Linked DNA regions of Homo sapiens. The protein of the gene in region 5 interacts with the protein of the main gene of each other region in a pairwise test. Each region holds a gene or a part of one and is shown on either strand. Other genes may lie near its edges.

Region 1 (3,420 bases), 2.2 Mb from region 5:
TAGACACTTGTTTGTCTTTGCTTTCCATTTCTATGTGTCACATACATATATGTGTCCTCTTATAACTTTAGTCTTCAAAATTATTTCAATATCCTTCTTCTCACTATATTTATTTGTGTGATGGAAATGCTTTCAGGCCGTAGATCATTGTTGGTGTTAATCTGTGGTTAATCCTCATTTTAGTTCCGTCTTATCTGATACTTAGAAATATCTCAGCCATTTTGGAGGCTGTGCAGTATCAGAAGACGTGGAGTTTGTTCTGTCTCTGCCTGTAGCTAATTATGGTGGTTCAGTCATTTAATAAATATGTTTTGAGCATCTATTTTGTGAAAGGCACTGTGTTACCTGTGTGTCTTTAGTGTCCTCACTGGTAAAATGAAGAGGCTGGCCATGAGCTGGAAGGGTTAAGTTTATAATTCCAGCTATTTCACACCCGTCTTCCTTGAAGGAATGATAGTGATAGATATAAAAACACTGTAAGTCCCTCTTTTAATAAACTAAATGAAAGAACATCCTATACTTCGCTGTTTGTAAATTAGTATGGCATTCGCTTTGGTTTAAGTGGTATTTTATTGCAAACCCATTAAAAGAATAACTCATGAAAAGAAGCTCTTTGACACCTTGGGGTACACAAATGTTGGTGTGGGTGTGTGTTAATTCTGTGAGTGAGACACACCAGTTCTAAAAAAAATGAGTGAAGTTCTGGTGCCTGAGTTACCATGCTTTCTTCTAGTTCTTACAGTAGCATAAAATTAAAGATTCAAAGTGAGATGGAGGATAAAATTACTTTTTAATACATGTTCTCAAACATTTGAAAATAAAAGTATATGATAGAAGGGGGCCAGAGTGTGGCCACCATCCTGATCGTACTGTTTTTCAATAAAGAAAACTTTTTCATTGGTAGATTTGGTGAAATTCTAAATTTAGGTTTTTTTCTAGAGCTGTATCAACCAAAACTTCTGGCAATTCCCAGTATCACTTCTTAGCCTTCTTATATCCAAATGCCTGTTTATTACCTTTCTTAATTTGAATCAATGCCTAGTTATTACAGATTGCACCCCACAATGGCCAAAAACCCACTACATAATAAAATTTACAGGTACTAACTAGTTAAGATTATATTTTAAGTAGCAATTGATATAAAATTACAACACAATGAAAGAACTTGGGTAATCTCTTAGCAATGGAAATAGGTTTTAACCAGCAGTTTTTCTGGGTGCTTTGTAACTATCATTTTACTAATGAATTGAGGATGTATTATGGTTTAAATTGGAAGAGTTTTATTCCCAAAGAATAAAGCAAGATTATCTTTCAGTAGTAGAGATTGAAGTAAATGTATTAATATTTTAATTAATACAGATTTACTAAGAGTAGTTAGAAAATTTAGTAAGTGCCTGTTTTACAAATTGTTAGGTACTAGTTTCTGTATAATTCCTACACAGAAGCTTTAGAAATCTCCTGATATTAAATTATTAAATTGGCATTCATGAAAAGAGAAGCTACAATTATAAACTCCATTTGCTAAATCATGCATAATACTCTCTCTCTCTCTTCCCCCACAAGTAATCTCTCTACCCCATGCAGTGTGCACACACACACACACACAGTCAGTTACTGAAAAAAATAATTCTTTTTCTTTTTTTTTTTAAATGGAGTTTCACTCTTGTCGCCCAGGCTGGAGTGCAGTGGCGTGATCTCGGCCCACTGCAACCTCCACCTCCCAGGTTCAAGCAGTTCTCCTGCCTCAGCCTCCTGAGTAGCTGGGATTACAGGTGTCCGCCACCATGCCTGGCTAATTTTTTTATTTGATAAAAAGAATTCTTTTTCTCAATAACTGTTCTCTTGAATTCAAATTAAGGGACTGCCAAAGTCAATTAGAATATTTTAAAAATACTTTGTTGTAACCTGTGTAAATAATATACAATTTACAGGATTTGGGATTGTAGAACTTAAACTGGAAGACTGGATTCCTCAGATCTCAGGACTATAACATTCCAGATAAATTTTTACATTCCCTTTGCTGTATATTAACTGATGATCATTTATATGTTAAGATTTTTTACCTTAATATTTCTGAATAAAACTCTTATTGCCCATTTAATATTTTCATAGGCAATCAAATGTGAGTAATACTGCTAAGAGTCTGATTTATTAAAAATATTTGTATAATTCATTCAGTTTAGTTTTTCAGTTTAGTCTTTCTGCTTTCACTTTTCTCTGTGCTAACAAGTAACTAATGTCTGGGCATTGACTTCTTATTGAATCAAAGTTGGGTTAGGCATAGCTATGCACACCTGATGTGTAAGATTAAAGAAGAGATTAAATAAGAAATCTTGGGTAAGTTGGACTTTTCTGTATAGCTCTTTTTTCCTCTGAGTTGTATTTTAATGTAGTTTATAAGTGATAAAATGATCCTTGTTTTCTAAAAGCCAGTCCTTCCCTTCAGCTTTCCACAGTTTCTGTAAATGTTTAATACTTGTACAGTCAATGGCAATTTTAAATATATATATATATATAATATATGTATATGGAAAAGGTTCAAAGATGCTTTTAATTTATTTAATGACTATTGCCTTCCTATAATAATAATTTTCATCCTTAATTATGATAATACTTTTAGCAAGAAAAATTCCTTTTTACTACAGTTTTTAGATGCAAAATGCAGTTTGGTTCTTTAGTCAAATCCACTTAGAGGGTATATTGCAGTGAAACTGTGAAGGATACTTCACTACCAATGTATAAGCTTTGTTGAATTTGTATCATTTTCTTTCAGTAATGAAAAGCTATTCATTATACAGTATGGAAATAAAAATTGCTTCATTGACCATTCATTTTTACTTATTGGGAAATACTATATTTCCAGACATTTTCAAGTGTGCTGCATTTAAAAGAGGTAATAAAGCTTAAGCATAGAGTTGAACATTTTCAAATGGTATTCTAAATGGAGCATCGTAACTTACTCTTAACATAACATGATTATCGTTGTAAAACAAGATTGAAATATACCCATCAGGAAAAATATATCTTTCAAGCTTGAGAAACTCAACTTAAATTGTTTCATATTTTCTTTTCTTTTTTAACCAAAAACTCCACATTTTATAGTTGGAGACTTTTGTTTCTTTCTGGATGTCTGACTCACTATTTTGACAATAACTTTATTTCATCTATCATTCTTACCATGTCCTGTTCTTTTAGAATGATAACTATCTAAATTTAATTAATCTTATCATTGAGATATATTCTAGCCATTTTTTGTTTAGGCCATAGTTTTTTCTTTAAGGAAAAAAAATGACCTGAAATTAAGAAATAAAATATGCTTTTATATTATTTTTATTATTTTAATCCATCTTTGTAACACTGTGTATGTTTGCATTTTGGAACTACAAGGAAATTTTAAAGATCATCTTGAACAAGTTCCTT
Region 2 (3,500 bases), on a different chromosome or scaffold from region 5:
TCACTGTGGATTTTCCTATTGCGTACACTTCATAATGGAATCATGTAAATACATGGTCATTTGTATCTGGCTTCTTTCACATAGCATGTTTTCAAGGTACATCAATGTTGTAGCATGAATCAACATTTTGTTCCTTTCTATGTTTGAATAGTTTTCCTTGCATGGATGTACCACATTTTGTTTATCCATTCAGCAGCCGATGGATATTTGGGTTGTTTCCACTTTAGGGCTATTAAGAATAAGGCTGCTGGCCAGGCGCAGTGGCTCATGCCTGTAATCCCAGAGGTCAAGGCAGGTGGATTGCTTGAGCCCAGGAGTTCAAGATCAGCCTGGGCAACATGGTAAAACTCTATCTCTACCAAAAATAAAAAAAATTAACTGGAGGTGGTGGCACATGCCTGTAGTCCCAGCTACTCGGGAACCCAAGGTGGGAGGATTGCTTGAGCCTGGGAGGTCGAGGCTGCAGTGAGGAGAAATTGTGCCACTGCACTTCAGCCTGGGAGACAGAATGAGACTCTGCCTCAAAAAAAAAAAAAAAAAAAAAAAAGGAATACGGCTGCTATGAATATTCATATTTTCATGAACATGTTTTCAGTTCTCTTGTGTATCTATCTTGGAGGGGAATTGGTCATTAGGAAGCCAATATTTAACATTTTGAGGAACTGCCAAACTGTTTTCCCAAGTGGCTGTTCGGTTTTACATATTCACCAGCAATCTAATGTAGGAAGCTTCCAATTTCTCCACATTCTCCACCTGGCCGTCCTGGTGGGTGTGAAGTGGCATCTCACTGTGGTTTTGATTTGCATCCCCCTAATGACTAATGGCACAGGAACACTTCCATGCCCCCGTCCAGTTCCAGGCACCCCTGACTGCTTTCATCCTGAGTGTTGCGCCTCCACTCCTGCAACCAGCTGTCCAGTCCTCTCTATAACTCATCTGCTATTTCAACGAATTTACAGAATCAAAAAACTTTTTGTTTTGTTTTTGGGACAGGATATTACTCTGTTGCCCAGGCTGGAGTGCAGTGGCACGATCAGGGCTCACTGCAGCCTTGACCTGCTGGCATTACAGGCATGAGCAACCAAGCCTGGGCTTAATAGGTTCTTTGACCACCACCACAGATTCAGTAAATCTCGCACTGTGCTGGGCACAATCCATTTTGTTGTATGCTCTGAAAATTATTTATATGCAGGCACAAATGCAAGTCTTTACTCCTGCTTCATTATCCCTCCAACCTAAAATGTCCCTTATCTATCAAAGAGTGCTACCCACCATTTATATTATCACAGTCCAGCTCCTTCGTGGAGACTTTCTTAGCCACTACAGCTTAAAATGTTCTTCTCTACTCTGAAATAAAAAATAAGTAACCACTTATAGAGTTAATTAATTAATAGCCATACTTAATGAATGTCCCTATATTTTCGGGATATACTAGGTGAAACCATCCCACCCACAATATTAAATCACATATTAAAATTGTGGTTTGTGCTAACTCAGTAATGGAGTCCTAAAAGATACATATATAACCTCAGAAAATTCTGTATTCTGGGAAACGCTGACTTGAATAAATGTAACCAAGTTTTTGTCGTTGATATAGTTAACTATAGTACTTCTCATAGTCTTTGATATAATGATGCCCATGTTGAGAATCTCTACAAGAGGAAAAAAAAATAATAGGCAGTGCTTCCCAAATGGATTTGCCCTTTATAAGAGCAAACTGATTAATACCCACCCCAACAGCACTTTACCCAACATATTCTCGGAACTGCTGAGCTAACTGCTCAGCAATTCAATCAGCTGGACAGCATTGAGTAGAAACCATATTTTCTACCAGAATAAGGAACTAACCTTGCTTTGTTTGAGGATGTCATCAATTGATAGTCACTACACTAACATACTAGGTTACAGAAGAAAAAAAAACTGCACATTAAATGCGTTCATACTTTTTTTTTCTTTTCTTTTTTTTTTTTTTTGAGATGGAGATTCACTCTTGTTGCCCAGGCTGGAGTGCAATGGCACGATCTCGGCTCACTGCAACCTTCGTCTCCCAGATTCAAGCAATTCTCTTGCCTCAGCCTCCCGAGTAGCTGGTATTACAGGTGCCCACCACCACATCCAGCTAATTTGTTTTTGTATTTTTAGTAGAGACAGGTTTTCATCATGTTGGTCAGGCTGCTCTTGAACTCCTGACCTCAGGTGATCCACCCGCCTCAGCCTCCCAAAGCGCTGGGATTACAGGTGTGAGCCACTGCACCTGGCCTAAATGTGTTCATAATTTTTAAGATCCATCTGGGCTTCTGAAATCAGAAAAAGAATGTATCTTAGAAATGAGCTAGTGCAGTATAACTAGTGTTTTAGTTTAAAAGCACCCTCTAGGAACATAGAGAATAATGCTCTAGGAATGGGCCCTGACTCTCTGTGACTCAGTAATAACAGTCCTAATGACCAAAAAGAAATAAAGTGTCATAATGACCGTCTCACAACAGATTTATTAAAGGGAGCAAAGATACCATGTACTGAGAAAAGTGAACAACAGTGATAAGAGGCTGCCCTCAAAGCAGGGGTAACACCCAAAATATAAACATCAGGTTATGGGAAGAAATTTTAAAATAGAAATGTTCCCTACTTATACTAAGTGGGAAAAACCATTGAAATTAACTAATGAATCTTAAGAGTGACAACCAGAAGGCTGTTCCTTCACCAAGTGCTGACTGCTGTCAGGAAGACAGGTTTGGGCCTGAAAGTTTTATCTACTAAAACACTAAGTGTACACTTGAGTTTTTTAAAGGTTTCTGATTTACTGATAGGTTTCTCTAGTGCTAATCATTTTAAAACTAAAACAAAGCACAAATGGACAGCTGAGATAAAGCATGACAGTGAGCTGGGATCCCATTTGGCCTAGCAACACAAGAACTAGTTAAGGCACTGACTGACCTCCTCTTATACCTAATTGATTTGGGCACTACATTATGTAAACTTTATTTCTTCCTTAGGATGTTATTGCAGGAACCCTCCTGACTCAAGCAGGCTCCCACAGCCTCTCTGATGCAAAGCAGTCAAAATTCAAGGCCACAGTCTAGGTCATAGGAAGTCATGGTGAGCTCACAGCACAGGACTATGGCGTGGGGGAAAAGGAAAAGAGCTTAAGATTGGGTTAGGTCCCAATAGTGCTTCATTACAAGCTAGGTTACACAGGACACCACACTAATACTGATCAGCTGCCCCTGAAAGCCAGCCTTCTACCCTCTTAGAGACGAAGAGAGGGTCTCAGCCACTGCCAATGCCACTACCATTCTCCAGAAGGAATGAAAGGGCTTTGCCAGGTCTAACCACCATGGGACATTTGTCGTGGGGTGTACTTCATGCTCCTTCCAGGGCCTGGGTAAGCTGTCCATTCGGAAAAGACACCACTGCAAATTCTTCTTAAACTTGTTCCCTAGGTGATCTATTCTGTCCTCCAACCTTAAGGTTCAAGCTGTCAGAACTGTACGTAACCTCCT
Region 3 (4,033 bases), on a different chromosome or scaffold from region 5:
GACAGTTCTTTTGTGTTCTAGTTCTTCAAGGGTGCTTATTTTGTGTGAATCACTGAGTTGGTTTTTAGGGGACACTTTTATGTACATGTCTTGTGTTTCTCCCCGCTCAAAAAAAACTGTTTCAAGAAAAGCTGGCCTGGATCTAAGGGGGCTGCAGCTTGCAGGATTTTTCCCACTTCCTCCCAGCCCAGTCACACAGTTTAAAATAATCTTCTGTTGAAGTCAGGTGCGTGTTTCTTCTCTCAGAAAATCGCGCCCATCACTGAGGGTGGACGCCCCGGGGCTGGTGTCTTTGCTCCACGTCTCCTGTTCACCTGAACCCCTAGGAGCAGTTCCTGCAGGAGCAAAGCCCCAGGGCCAGCAGACCCCTCACACTCTGCACTAACCAGGCCTCATGAGATAGCAGTGGTGAAGGGAAATGTCCTTGTGCTCAGAGAGCTGTGAGGATGGGAATAGTGTCTGCTCTTTTCATATTGATCCTTTCCCTTATGACTTTCCTGTCTACCAAGCCCCACAATACAACAATCACAGCCTCAGCTTCCCCGGCCTCCTGCAGGCTGGGCTCCCCTCCGTGTCCTTGGCGTGTATCAACAGGCGCAATCCTCACCTTCACAGCCCCATGTCCGTCTGCTCGGTCCTCCTGAGACTGAACCCCCGACCTAGGGGAGAGTGACCCCACCCTGCCTGTGCCCCCCACTGAAGCTCCTGTCATGGGGAGCTCAAACGTCAGGAGACTCAGTGTCTCCCCACCACACAGTGACTCCTTGGGGACAGTGTCCGGCTCTGCTGTGTTGACCTCATTGTGCAGAAAGGGGGTGCCCACCTCGTGGCTGCTGAGGGAGGGATGAGAGGCTGCCTGTTCACCCCACCTGCACCCCTGTCTCTCATGGCCCCGAGTCCCACTTCTGAGCTACGCAGACATCCACAGCCTGTGACTCAGGGGTCTGGGCAGATGGGAGTTATTTTCACCCTGCAGAAAATATCACCTAAAGGGAAAGGCATTGAGAGGGAGGCAGGAGGTGGGGTGGGCCCTGCATGGGGTGGGAATCTGGGTGAGTCTGTCTCCCGCTCTGGCCTCAGGGACCCAGGAGTGAATGTCGGGTGGTGGACGGTGGATCTCCCAGGGCTGACCCAGCCCTGACAGTGTCTGTGTGTGAAGTTCTTCTTCTAAGGAGGTCACTGTTTTGACCTCACCACCGACTTCCTGTAGGGCCTCTTCTAAGTCTTGAGCCCGCAGTTCCTGAGAGAAGAACCCTGAGGAACAGACGTTCCCTCGCGGCCCTGGCACCTCCAACCCCAGATATGCTGCTGCTGCTGCTGCTGCCCCTGCTCTGGGGGAGGGAGAGGGTGGAAGGACAGAAGAGTAACCGGAAGGATTACTCGCTGACGATGCAGAGTTCCGTGACCGTGCAAGAGGGCATGTGTGTCCATGTGCGCTGCTCCTTCTCCTACCCAGTGGACAGCCAGACTGACTCTGACCCAGTTCATGGCTACTGGTTCCGGGCAGGGAATGATATAAGCTGGAAGGCTCCAGTGGCCACAAACAACCCAGCTTGGGCAGTGCAGGAGGAAACTCGGGACCGATTCCACCTCCTTGGGGACCCACAGACCAAAAATTGCACCCTGAGCATCAGAGATGCCAGAATGAGTGATGCGGGGAGATACTTCTTTCGTATGGAGAAAGGAAATATAAAATGGAATTATAAATATGACCAGCTCTCTGTGAACGTGACAGGTAAGGCACGGGCTCCAAGAGAGGCCAAAGGCAAATGTGATGAGGGCTTTAGGGCACGGCTGAGACGGGACACATGTCCTGGGAGGGGGCCGGGGGTGATGGACTCAGGAGAGGAGCTGGACCAGAGCCTGAGCTTCCCCAGGACCGCACCTTGGATGCCCCTCCTGATCCTGCAGGCCCCTCCCCTCACCAGCCCTGACCCACAGGCCTGACATCCTCATCCTGCCTCTGACGCTGGCATTGTGGCATGTGGGGCCTTATGACTCCTTGTTTTGGGGCCTGTCCTAGGCATGGCCGGGGTTTAGCACCATCCCAGGCCTCTCCCCACCAGATGCCAGAAGCACCCACTCCACCCATGCAGTGAGACAATAACAATTATCTCCACACATTGTTAAACGTCCTGGGGGGTTAAGTCCTCCCCAGTTGAGAGCCTTAGGTCTACACAACCCCGTGACTCTCTCAGGCCAGGCCAGGGAGGAAGCACTTCCTGGCGCAAACCAAGGGCAGCAGAGGCACCTGAGCCTGGACAGGGAGACTCAGCACACGGCCCCTCCATCTCTCATGCCCTGAGGTCCTCGGAGATCCACATTTAGATGCTCAAAAGACAGGAGGGACCTCCACGATGGTCCAGAGGCCGGGAGGGCAGGACCTACGTGTCTGGTGCAGGCCCTGGTGCTCCAGGGAAGCCCGGAGGTAGGAGGTGGGACACGGTCTCTTCTCCTCCCTGGGTGGGTCTCTAGGGTCTCTGAGCTTCAGGGTTTCCTTCACTCTGTGCAGAGGGAACCAGTTCCTATAGCATGTGGGTTTGTAGTTTCTCTTTCGTGCTGGGTTGAGGTCTCCAGCTCCTCTCCAGCCCCTCTCCAGCCCCCTGTGGGTCCCACAGCCCTGCCCCTCCTCTCCCTCCCACTTCTCTGCTCACACAAGGAGCCCAGGAACCCTCTGTCTCAGAGATGCTGCTGCCTCTCTTGTGGGCAAATGAAGAGAGGGACAGTCGGGGCTGGGCTGAGCCTCATTTCCCCACAGCGTCCCAGGCCCCACTGTCAAGATACAGGCTGGAGGTGCTGGAGTTGGTGATGGTGCAGGAGGGCTAGTGCGTCTCTGTGCCCTGCAGTGTCCTTTAACCCTATTACAACTGAACTGACTCTAGCCCTGTCCATGGATGCTGGTTTAAGAAAGGGATCAATATACAATGGAATAATCCAGTGGCCACAAACATCCCAAATGGAAAAGTGCAGGAGACACGGGGCCGATTCCACCTCCTTGGGGACCTGAAGACCAACAACTGCTCCCTGAGCATCAGAGATGCCAGGAAGGGGGATTTGAGGAACTACTACTTCCAGGTGGAGAGAGGACAGATAAGATGGAATTACAAAACGAAGCAGCTCTCTGTGAATGTGACAGATAAGGCACAGGCTCCAGGAGACACCACAGGGAAAGGTCATGGGGGTGGCAGCGAAAGCCTGGGATGGGGCCCCTGCCCTGGGAGAGGGCTGAGGGTGAAGCGAGTTGGGCTCAGGGCAGAAGCTGAACCAGAGCCTGAGCTTCCCCCAGGGCTGTACCATGGATCCTCTGTCCTGATCCTGAGTCCCCCTCTCTTCACCAGCCTTGACCCACAGGCCCAACATCCTTATCCCCGGTACCCTGGAGTCTGGCTGCTTCCAGAATCTGACCTGCTCTGTGCCCTGGGCCTGTGAGCAGGGGACGCCCCCTATGATCTCCTGGATGGGGACCTCTGTGTCCCCCCTGCACCCCTCCACCACCCGCTCCTCAGTGCTCACCCTCATCCCACAGCCCCAGCACCACGGCACCAGCCTCACCTGTCAGGTGACCTTGCCTGGGGCCGGCGTGACCACGAACAGGACCATCCAACTCAATGTGTCCTGTGAGTGCTGAGCCAGGACGCCCTGGTCCCTGATGAGGGGGGGACGTCCCTGAGGGCAGAGGATGGGGTCAGGGCTCGACACTGGGTGCTGGGTCCCAGAATCTGGGCTGGTTGTGGGATCAGGAGGACGCTGGCTCCGCCTTCCCCATTTATGCAGCTCCTGGGGAGACAGGGCCAGTGTCCCCAGCCCTCACAGTGATGCAGGTCTCCATGTCTTTCTGTCCCAGACCCTCCTCAGAACTTGACTGTGACTGTCTTCCAAGGAGAAGGCACAGGTAGGATGGAGCCCCCTCCCTGGGGCTGGGGGAGCAGGGCCTTCAGCTCAGGGCAGGGCCAGGTCCCTCCTCATCCTGGACTCACCCTGGTGATATGAGACTCCCTTGTAGTTGAACCCAGGCCTCCTCCCCATCCTTAGC
Region 4 (3,500 bases), about 61 Mb from region 5:
CAGTGAAAGAATCCAGTGCTAAAACAGCATTTATGCTGTCTGAGATATAGTAAAATCTCACAAGACAAATTTAAAGTAATATTTCTGCCACACACCTGCTTTGTTAGCTGTAACAGCCTCCAGATTTTATATAAATTAGTTTAAAAACATGGGTGGGTGGGGAGGAATAGGATAAGGTATCTTTTTTAACCACTCAATTTTAGCAGCTTTAATTTTTTAAGAAACTGAACCTCTATCCTGTAATGTTAGATATTTTATATATACTTTTTCAGCAGGATAAAAAACGTAAAACACTATTTGAAGGCAAGAACATTTACTCCTCTCATTCTGTGTAAGTTAGAGCAATGCAGCAGGTGCGTGACAAAAATATTATATACTAGATATGGTCCAAAGTCATTCCATTTGCTTGTTTAGTGATGTTCAAATTTCATTGGCCAGTTCTTCAGCTTCTGCAGAACTATCTCCATTAACTGTGATCTTCATATCCTCTTCATATCCAGGAGGCATGAAAGCCAAAGCATAAGGGAAAAGCTTATGACAATTTGCTCTATAAATTTCAGCAGCTTCTTTACAGTCTCCTAGGCTACCATCATACAAGGCTTCCAATACCTCCATACATGTCTAAGGAAAGAAAAAAAGTCATGTTGTAACTGGTCAAAAAAAGGTTCTTACTGGGAATTTATTAGACATTTCAACAGCAAGAGATTTCTAAAATAAGAAATAAATACACATATTTAGCTATTTACTCCTGCATATGCATTCTATTAGAATGTTCTTCAAGGCCTAATTTAACCATTTCTCCAGAATTGCAGGATTTATACAAAAGGCTAAACAGGGATGACTGCAGAAACAGGAATGGGACTATGGTGAGGCAAGCAAGGTATATGGAGTGCTACATTTAAAAAGCCACTCACTCTCAGCAAGCGTATGACCTTAGGCAGCAATGTTACCTCAGCCTAGCCTGGCCCTGGGTATAAACATCTAGATTTACAATGCCAATACCAATTACTGCACATATGCCTTCTAATATTTTTGAAAGCTTAGAGCCAGCCAGCAAACTCAAACACTGTATTCAACATTGTGTTCAAATTAAAGAGCAACTTAAGGCACATCCAATAACTAAGCAGAAAAGAGTGTCTCAAACATGAAGTGATTATTTGCAAGAAAAATTAGTTCATGAAAATGAGTAATTCTTTCAACCAAACCCCTAAGTAAGTCTGCTTCTTATCTTTTTTGTTGATTCATGTTGATTTGCATTTCTCATGTTTGCTTTCTTAATATTTTCACTTAGAAAAGCTACTTAGTTTCCACATGCAAAAATCCCTACAAACTTTGCCAGGTTACAAAGCAACTTAAATCCAGGTTACAAAGGACCTAGATTAGAACTTTAAATCCAGGTTCTAATCTAAATGGTAAAACAAACAAGTCTAATTTTTCTTTCTTAAAGATACTGCCTTCATTTGCTATTAAATGAATATATTTATTAATAACTGTCTTTCAGCATATACATGTTTATCTGGCAAATTATAACATGAGGTAGCTATCCCTTTGTTTCTAGTTTAAACTACAGTATTTTACAATACACCCATATTAATTTTTATTTAACTTAATCTCATATTGTATTACAAGTTACAAAATAAGTATTTTTATTTAGCCCCTAGTAAATACATCTTTCTTTATTTTGAGATAGGGTCTTGCCCTGTTGTCCATACTGGAGTACAGCGTCACAATCACAGCCCACTGCAGCTCCAACCTTTCAGGCTCAAGTGTTCCTCATATCTCAGTCCCCCAAGTAGCTGGGAATACAGTGCCACCACATCTGACTGATTTTTTTTTTTAAGAGATGGGGTCTCACTATGTTGCCCTGGCTTGTCTCGAACTCATGAGCTGCAGTGATCTGCCCACTTTGGCCTGCCAAAGTGCTGGGAATATAGGCCATGAACCAAAACGCCTAGCCAAAATACATTTTAAACATGTTAGAATCTCCACTGAGACCACTGCTTGCTCAGAAATGCAGAGATATGAAATGAAATCCAAAAATGACGATGGAATGTATATGATTTTATTAAAACATATTTCTTAAAAAGTTATTCCAAGCTACAGATGTGAAACTAGTTACTGAATGCCAAGCAGCCTAAATAAATTTTAAGATAAGTTGTTTCTGACCCAGATTCATAATGATTTAAAAAACAGTGTGTATAAATACCCAATTATTTCTCTTGGTGAAAAAAGTAGTTAAGTATTCTTACAGAGAGATTATGAAAAACTCTTTACCTGGAGGTTTCTGTTAGTGAGAGATTCATCAAGTGTTGTTGCCAACTCTATAGCTCGCTTCTGACTAGAAGGATCTAAGTAATATACCATTTTGGCAGCTAAATGAGAGGGAAATAGGAAATTTATTTCAAGGTAAAACCAACATCTTATCCTCTACTTATTTAAATATAAAAGGCAAACAAGATATATATGCAGAGGGTGTGGCACTTTATTAGAAGAATGGGAACAGCTACTTGAGATACTGTTATTCAAAAAATAATAATGCTAAGGGGATTAGCTTAACCATCCAAAGAAAGAGAACAATAGAGGTATACCACATATATCTACCCAATAAAATAGAATGTATATGCAACACATGCACAGTAAAGGAGACTATGAAGAAACACAAGCATTCTAATAATACTTGTATTTTTGTGGTAGGACCATGATAGTCTTCTTTCTGAAATAAGCAGAATAATGTGGAGGTTGGGGGACTATCCTATCTCAACAGTGTGAGCCAAAATGCTGAATTCAGGATTCCACAAAGGTATACAAAGCTGCTGGGCTTAAGCCAAGTATTTGAAAAGTACTACCCACATGGTCCCATAAAGGTCAGATTTTGGCTCATTGGCACAGACCCTTGACTTAGATTTCTCACAAACTGTGAAGATAATTTCAGGTGTTTAGCACTGTCAACTCTGATACCTACATAAGAATGAGAAATGGAAGACGATGGTCCTATCTGAGTGAATTTTAAGAGCCCAATGATGAAAAAAGAAATAAAAGAAAGCTCTACCTTCATTTTATGATATACATTTAAGTTTAGTTACACCTGCTTCTTTGTAATGCCAATGCTGAACCAGAAGAGACCACTGACTTTGATTTGTAGTGATTATTTTGCCGTAAGAAATTAAAAAATGTATAGGAAGCGCATATATATATAATATATATTATATATATATATATATTATATATATATATGTTTGGTTTTGTTTTGATTTGAAACAGGGTATCATTATGTTGCCCAGACTGGCCTCAAATTCCTGGGCTCAAGTGATCCTTCTGCCTCAGCATCCTGAGTAGCTGGGACTACCGGTATGTGCCACTGTGCCCAGCTTAGGAAGCTTATTTAAGCTGCCTGTTTTCATACGATCACAATGTAACATATACACACTGCCTCTTCCATTCTAAAAACATGTACCTTATATTATTGTTGATTCATTAAAATTACTGAAGTTGTTTTAGAA
Region 5 (3,500 bases):
TAGACAAAATTGTCCTAATTCATCCACCCCAATTCTTACTTTAGAAAAGTAGTTCAAGAAATCCATTCGTTTCTGTCTCCCTCTCTACCATACCCGCCCCACCATCTGTCTCTTGCACATGTGCACACACATGCATGCATGCATACACACACACACACACACACACACACACACACACACACACACACACAGAGGTTGGGAGGCATTCTATAGCAAACTGCATACTTTAGCTCTCTTTTGAGATGCAGTGTACAAGTATGCTACTGATGCTGCTGTTTCTCCTGCTCAACTCTGAGCCAAAGCTTATAGACACCTTTTCTCAGCTAATGTTTCAAATCCTTAAACAGCATTGTATGAGAACTTCAGTGTTCATGTAACAGAAGTCTAACAGCTCCTACCTCCTAGGTATCTAAAAACATTAGGAGGCATTGATGATGATTCTTAGTTACAAGATGCTAAAGCACGTGCCATTTTGTATAAGTTTAAGAAATTTTGTACCAAAGTTATTTAATTTATAACGCTACTAACCAATATGTCTCAATAGCCAAAATATACTATTACCAACTATGTTACGGTAACAGTATGTATACTATATATCATCTTAAAATACATATATGTAAAAATGTTTATACCTATTTAAATTAAATTATACAACCTTTATGAGTAAACAGTAAAATTAATCAAAGGTAATAACATGTAAATAGAGAAAGTCTACAAGGATTTTTTTTTAACTGCTGAAGTCACTTGTTAGGGTGTTGTTTATACTTACATTACCAAAAATGCCTTTACATACAAGCCAATAATATCCTTAGCCCTAAATGCTGTTAGATGTTGCTACACCTTACCTACAAATAGCAGTTAGCAGAATTAACTGAGGAAACGGAAGGATGGGGATGCCAAGGGACCAGAAGACAGGACTAGGAAGAGAGAATGGGTGGCTCTACAGAAAGATAAATTCTAAACTAATTTAAGAGAACTTAATGACCGACCATTCAACGATGACTTCCACTTCCACAATAATTTCCTTTGCTTTCACTGGAAAAATACTTGCCTATTGGCACTATAGGAGGAGTCCATTATGGTTCCAACCTGAGCTGGAAGTGATGAAGTGTAGGAAACTAAGGCTGGTGAGAACTCTTGAGGGGAGGTAAGATATTCAGGTGATGCCTGTTGTTGAGACGGCTGATGTTGAGCTAGCATCTGCTGTTGAAAGAAAGCCTGCTGATACTGCGGCATCTGAAAAAAGAAATGATATTATACAAAACAATGCTCCAGTCCTAAAGCACTGTCAGCACTGCATCTATTTACTATGTTCCTTCCTTTCACATTGGTGACAAAATCAGAAACGTAAAAAACAATCATCTACAGAAGCAGCTCTATTACTAGAAAACTACAGCAAGATGAAATAAATCTTTTTAAAAAGTTGTAAAGGTAGGCTCACTTGGCCAGAATCAAAAATCCTCTTTTAAGTATTTTAAGAAAAAGAGTAGCTTAAAGTCACTAATATAGTGGTTGCTGTTAAAAAAAAAAAAAAAAAAAAAAAAAAGGTCAAATTATTCTCTGAAGAAAATATACTCTCCCTTTGGGTTTCATTTTTTTACTCAATAGATATGTGCTGAATGAAAGAGACATGTGACGAAAGACTATAGGTAAGACATCATTTCCCTTATATAATGACATAAGAGAAGTACGTTATCGGTCAATTACTATGTGCCATATTCAGGTGCCATAGTTCAGTGCAATTTAAAGCTGCTTGAGAATATATGACTGGCTTTGATAAAATACATGTCAATTAACTTACTTGATTTTGAATTACTAAATTCTGAATAATATGATTCATACTGTGAATTCCAACACCATAATGTATACTCAGAGAAATCTCTAGAAATTATTTAAGTTACCATTGTAGGATACTGTGATGCAGAAGGTTGTGGTTGATATACCGAATGCATTAAAAATTGTTGTTGAAGCATCTGTTGCTGCTGTGTTGCATGTTGATACTACAACGAGAAAATCAAATTAATAAATGTTATGCCTTTTTTGTGTCAGAGCCCTTTTTTAAAGTATTGATCTTACCATAATGATTTGAGAAATCAGTAGTCCAAACATCAATACAAAATAGCTATACTCTAAATTACTATAATTTATTAATAAATATGCTTATCAGAACTGGTTTCAAAATTATCAACAATTAGATTCAATTAAAACCATTTTTAGCACAATTTAAGGATGTTTAGAAGAAAGCTACCAAAACACATTTACTACCTTTTCCTAGAAGATAAAGACACCTGAGTGACTTCTAACCAAGCCCCATTACACTAAATCTCCCCTTCAGTGGTGTCTTCTGGGCATCCCATGGTACCACCTACTTACTACCCTCCACTCTGGATCTATCAACCAAAACCAGGAGGGTGACAAAAATCTAAGACAATGTTACTTCTGAAAAGCCTAATATCACCTTTCCAACAATAGCATTATTAGTCTGTGAACTCAAAACGTAACCTCAGATAATATTCATTATAAACTGCAGTGCTTATTTGTGAATACTAAATGTTTCAGATGAACATTCTTTTCTTCATAAGGCCACAATGCAACCTATTTTACAGTATTCTTAAGTATTTCACTGATTGCAAATTAAATACGTATTCTTTCATAATTAGAAAATTGGGGAAAGTGTTTACTCAAATCTAGAGTTCAAGGTGCCCATGATACAAAAAGGAATTCACTGATATTCAATTTGCTGCATCAATTTCACACTACTTCCATATCTAAAGAAACAAAAAAATTACCTGCTGCATATAAGCATCTTGAAGTAGGTGGTGGTGGTGGTGGTGGTGGTGCTGCTGCTGCTGCTGCTGCTGCTGCTGTTGCTGTTGCTGCTGCTGCTGTTGCTGTTGCTGCTGCTGCTGCTGCTGCTGCTGGTGAGGATGACGATGCTGTAAATGGAGTTGCTGTAATCTCCAATCTCCCTGCTGTAGTTGCTGGAGTACTCTATGCTGCTGTGGCGGCTGCTGAGGAGGTCCCTGACCCAATAAAATTTCAGGGCCATTTCCAGGTCTTAGTGCCCCTAAAGACAGGTCCAAACACTTACATTAACATACTAATGATTTCAATTAAAAAGCTGGATTTCAACATGCTCATTTCAATAATAATTTAACTAAGGCATTTATATCCTTATTTATAACACAAAAACTTCCATATGCATAGAGTTTATAGGGATTTACTTTAATTGTAAGTACCGAAGAAGCTTAATTTTGTCGTCTACAACTCTGAACAAGTCAACATCTTAGAAACACTTCATGTTTCATACTTCGGCTCTCCATGAACACAACATCCATGTTAGTTTGTTCTACACTGCTCAACAATATCATGTACTATCATGAGTATGTATTAGTACCAATATAATTCTCTGTCTAGAATGCCACTTTCCACCTAGTGAAATTCTTATTCTTTAAAGTTTAGCTCAAACCTCTCTTCCTTATTCCTTCATCTAGCACTTC
Region 6 (3,500 bases), on a different chromosome or scaffold from region 5:
CAGAGGGAAAACAGATTTGAGAAGAAAAAAGTCCAAAATATGCACAGTGGTAATATCTGAAGATGTGCGTGCGTGCGTGTGTGTGTGTGTGTGTGTGTGTGTGTGTTTCTATTCTTGCATTTTCTAACTGTCCCCAGTGAGTATTTGTTACTTTCTAACTGAGAAGGTTACTTTAAACAGTGTCTTGAGCAGCAGCACTCCATGCCCTGGTGTAGCCTTTTCCTGGCAGATGTTCCCCAGGGCTCTGCTGCTCTGCCAATGACTTATTCTCAGCATGAACTCCTCCCCTGCCCCCTAAGAGGATCTCCAAACCCAGGTCACACTCCCCCTGCAGGTAAGTACAGGCGTTTGAGAACAGCTTTATTCTTCCAGGAACAGCTGGTCCCCTCAGCAGGGCCTTACAAGGTGGTTATGTCTAAATAAGGCACCTGAGGCCAGGAGATGTGACATGGTCCATCTAATACCATGGAGTGAGTTAGACACAGAGCAGGACTGGAACCCATGCTTCCAATTCCCCATCCAGTTTTAAGGCAATCTTCTTTTCTTTCTTTCTTTCTTTTTTTTTTTTTTTTTTTTTTTTTTGGAGACAGAGTCTCTGTCACCCAGGCTGGAGTGCAGTGGTGCGATCTTGGCTCACTGCAACCTCTGCCTCCGGGGTTCAAGCGATTCTCCTGCCTCAGCCTTCTGAGTAGCTGAGATTTCAGGTGCCCGCCACCACGCCTGGCTAATTTTTGTATTTTTAGTAGAGACGAGGTTTTACTATGTTGGCCAGGGTGATCTCGAACTCCTGACCTCAAGTGATCTGCCCACCTCAGCTTCCCAAAGTGCTGGGATTACAGGTGTGAGCCACTGCACCTGGCAAGGCAACCTTTTTTTTTTTTTTTTTTTTTGGTAGAAAATCTTTGAACTTCATATAGATGGTGTTAATGTGGGTGAGTTCAGAGCCATGTGTAAAGTTCCAGGAGGGGAGTGCTTGCTGGCTTCTCCCTTATCCCTCAACCAGATCCCAGCCCCAGCCACTTTCTGTTTCTCTTCTCTGGATAAAACTATCATTCATCTTCACCTGTTTCTATTTTCATGGATTACTGTCTCATTCATCTCAAGTAGCTCAAGTGAATGGCTGTTTTTCCATTGGATACAGGAAGACTGAGGGTGACCTGACCCTCATGGTGTGCTTGCTTATTTGAATGTCTGATGGTTTTATGGGTGTAGTCCTGCTGGAGCAGAAAGAATATCTGTTAGGAGCCTGCCTCTGGGCTCTGGTTCTAACTGTGCCACAAACTCATCGTAGCCTTAGACAATTCTCTTGTCTCTCTGGGCCTCAGTTTACCCATCTGGAAAATGATGGGTCTGAATTTAATACCTTGAGTATCATCCAGCTGTGACATACTACAACTCAGGCAAGAAGCAAATTCTCCTGACACTCCATACTCCTATCCAGTGTTCTCTGACGTCCTTCCCCAAGAGCTGTGGTACCCTACCCTGCCCACATTATGTGAGGCATTATAGCACATAGGTTAGAAGTGTGGTCTCTGGGCCGGGTGTGGTGGCTCATGCCTGTAATCCCAACACTTTGGGAGGCCGAGGCAGGTGGATCACGAGGTCAGGAGATCAAGACCATCCTGGCTAACACAGTGAAACCCCATCTCTACTAAAAATACAAAAAATTAGCTGGGTGTGGTGGCACATGTCTGTCGTACCAGCTACTTGGGAGGCTGAGGCAGGAGAATCACTTGAACCTGGGTGGCGGAGGTTGCAGTGAGCCAAGATCGTGCCACTGCACTCCAGCCTGGGCAACAGAGCGAGACTCCATCTCAAAAAAAAAAAAAAAAAAGAAGTGTGGTCTCTGGAGCTAGACCTAAGAATCCAATTCAGACTCTCTTACTTACTGACTGTGTAATTTGGACAAGTTACTTAGCATTTAGCATCTCTATTTCTTTAATCATAAAATGAACATATTAACACTTACTTCCTAGGGCTGTTGTGAAGATAAACTGAGTTGAGGTATGACAGTACCTAGCATGTAGTAAGCATCATTAAATGGTGTCTGTTGTTTTCACATATTGTAAAGAAGAAAGCTTCGTGCATCTCTTGGAATTTCTGAGGACGGTGAAGCCACAGCTGGGAAAGTCTCAGGGAGCCAGGAGTTGCTGGCCTCCTGCTTTGCATACTCAAAATTGCTGGAAAGGGGCTATAGCAGGGGGAGACATTTTTTAAAAATCCCAGTTATTGCTATTCCTCATGAGTATGTATATATCACCTGGCATCAGTACTCTGCATAGAAAGAAGCATAGCTAAAGAAAAGACACTTTGCTTTTAATATAACAGCTGTTTTCAGGGGAATAGGGTGGATGAGGATAGGGAGTACTGGCCCTCTGTCCTCAGGCCTCCCTGTCACCAGCTCAGTCACGTCTATCTTACAAATCCCCATCTAGCAGGAAGCCTGCTCTGCCCTTGGACTATAGACCTGAAGGGCTGTTGTTAAGTTACAACGTTCCCAGTGGAAGGAGGACAGTACTTAAAAGTTACAAGATGTGGGTTCTGTTCTTAGTTCTTATGGCCTGTCAGCCAGGGAACTCCTGGCCAGTAGTCTCATCCTTGAACTTCTTCTTTTTTTTTTTTTTTCTCAAGACGGAGTCTCGCTCTGTCGCCAGGCTAGAGTGCAGTGGCACGATCTTGGCTCACTGCAACCTCTGCCTCCTGAGTTCAAGCTATTCGCCTGCCTCAGCCTTCCAAGTAGCTGGGATTACAGGTGCTTGCCACCACGCCTGGCTAATTTTTGTATTTTTGGTAGAGACAGGGTTTCGCCATGTTGGCCAGGCTGGTCTTGAACTCCTGACCTCAAGTGAGCCCAGCCCTCATCCTTGAACTTCAAATTTCCACCCCACCTTACTCCCACAGGCATATACCAGTTGTTCCTTTTTCTCTGTTCTTATGCAGGAAATGGCCTGAGGTCCAGGAGTCCCCTTGGTCCCCTTTTTCCCTCACTCTCAACATTCAATTAGTCTTCACATCTACAGCCGACAATTGTAACTTCTTTTCTTTACTCCATTATTTCTTAGGTGACAACAGGAGCTTCTTTGTGGTCTTCTTTTTTCTAAAAACACTAATTCAGAACTCTAGCATGTTTAGATCTTCCTTACTTAAAACCCTTTCCTGGTCCCCATAACCTACTGAAGAAATCCTAAGCTCCCTGGCTTGGCCTCTGTCTACATTTCTCTGATCTCTTCCAGCTCTTTCTCTGTATCCTAGCCATACTGAACTACTTGCAATTCCCAAACAGGGTACACACTGTACTAGTTGTTCCTGCAAGAGACAGGAACACACATCCCCCCACACTAGCTTAACAAAACAAAAAATGCATTTCTCTCTCATGCAAAAGAAGTCCAAAAGTAGACATTCCAAACTTAATATGGTGTTCCAGTGTCAGAATCCAAGTTCTTTCTACTTTGTGGGTTTGCCGTTCTCAGCATATGACTTCCACTTTATGGTCCAAAATG

What was found.
Region 1: the proteins of BMP2K (region 5) and BMP3 interact in a two-hybrid assay, tested with the Homo sapiens proteins (one large-scale study listed by IntAct).
Region 2: the proteins of BMP2K (region 5) and STXBP6 interact in a two-hybrid assay, tested with the Homo sapiens proteins (one large-scale study listed by IntAct).
Region 3: the proteins of BMP2K (region 5) and SIGLEC7 interact in a two-hybrid assay, tested with the Homo sapiens proteins (one large-scale study listed by IntAct).
Region 4: the proteins of BMP2K (region 5) and NAA15 interact in a two-hybrid assay, tested with the Homo sapiens proteins (one large-scale study listed by IntAct).
Region 6: the proteins of BMP2K (region 5) and ST6GAL1 interact in a two-hybrid assay, tested with the Homo sapiens proteins (one large-scale study listed by IntAct).

Annotation. Positions count from the first base shown.
Region 1 is NC_000004.12:81,054,708-81,058,127, forward strand, and holds the end of BMP3 (bone morphogenetic protein 3 preproprotein), read left to right. Parts: 3' UTR 1-2,920; downstream 2,921-3,420. UniProt on the Homo sapiens protein: Growth factor of the TGF-beta superfamily that plays an essential role in developmental process by inducing and patterning early skeletal formation and by negatively regulating bone density.
Region 2 is NC_000014.9:25,043,648-25,047,147, forward strand, and holds part of STXBP6 (syntaxin-binding protein 6), read right to left. Parts: intron 1,294-3,500; exon of another isoform or gene 1,273-1,293; intron 1-1,272. UniProt on the Homo sapiens protein: Forms non-fusogenic complexes with SNAP25 and STX1A and may thereby modulate the formation of functional SNARE complexes and exocytosis.
Region 3 is NC_000019.10:51,141,068-51,145,100, forward strand, and holds the start of SIGLEC7 (sialic acid-binding Ig-like lectin 7 isoform 1 precursor), read left to right. Parts: upstream 1-1,233; 5' UTR 1,234-1,302; coding exon 1,303-1,735; intron 1,736-3,338; coding exon 3,339-3,617; intron 3,618-3,844; coding exon 3,845-3,892; intron 3,893-4,033. UniProt on the Homo sapiens protein: Putative adhesion molecule that mediates sialic-acid dependent binding to cells. Preferentially binds to alpha-2,3- and alpha-2,6-linked sialic acid.
Region 4 is NC_000004.12:139,385,005-139,388,504, reverse strand, and holds part of NAA15 (N-alpha-acetyltransferase 15, NatA auxiliary subunit), read right to left. Parts: intron 2,373-3,500; coding exon 2,275-2,372; intron 622-2,274; coding exon 421-621; 3' UTR 1-420. UniProt on the Homo sapiens protein: Auxillary subunit of N-terminal acetyltransferase complexes which display alpha (N-terminal) acetyltransferase (NAT) activity. The NAT activity may be important for vascular, hematopoietic and neuronal growth and development.
Region 5 is NC_000004.12:78,870,350-78,873,849, reverse strand, and holds part of BMP2K (BMP-2-inducible protein kinase), read right to left. Parts: intron 3,068-3,500; coding exon 2,790-3,067; intron 2,001-2,789; coding exon 1,902-2,000; intron 1,237-1,901; coding exon 1,052-1,236; intron 1-1,051. UniProt on the Homo sapiens protein: May be involved in osteoblast differentiation.
Region 6 is NC_000003.12:187,066,526-187,070,025, forward strand, and holds part of ST6GAL1 (beta-galactoside alpha-2,6-sialyltransferase 1), read left to right. Parts: intron 1-3,500. UniProt on the Homo sapiens protein: Transfers sialic acid from CMP-sialic acid to galactose-containing acceptor substrates. In B lymphocytes, generates neuraminidase-sensitive lymphocyte cell-surface differentiation antigens, such as CDw75, HB-6 and CD76.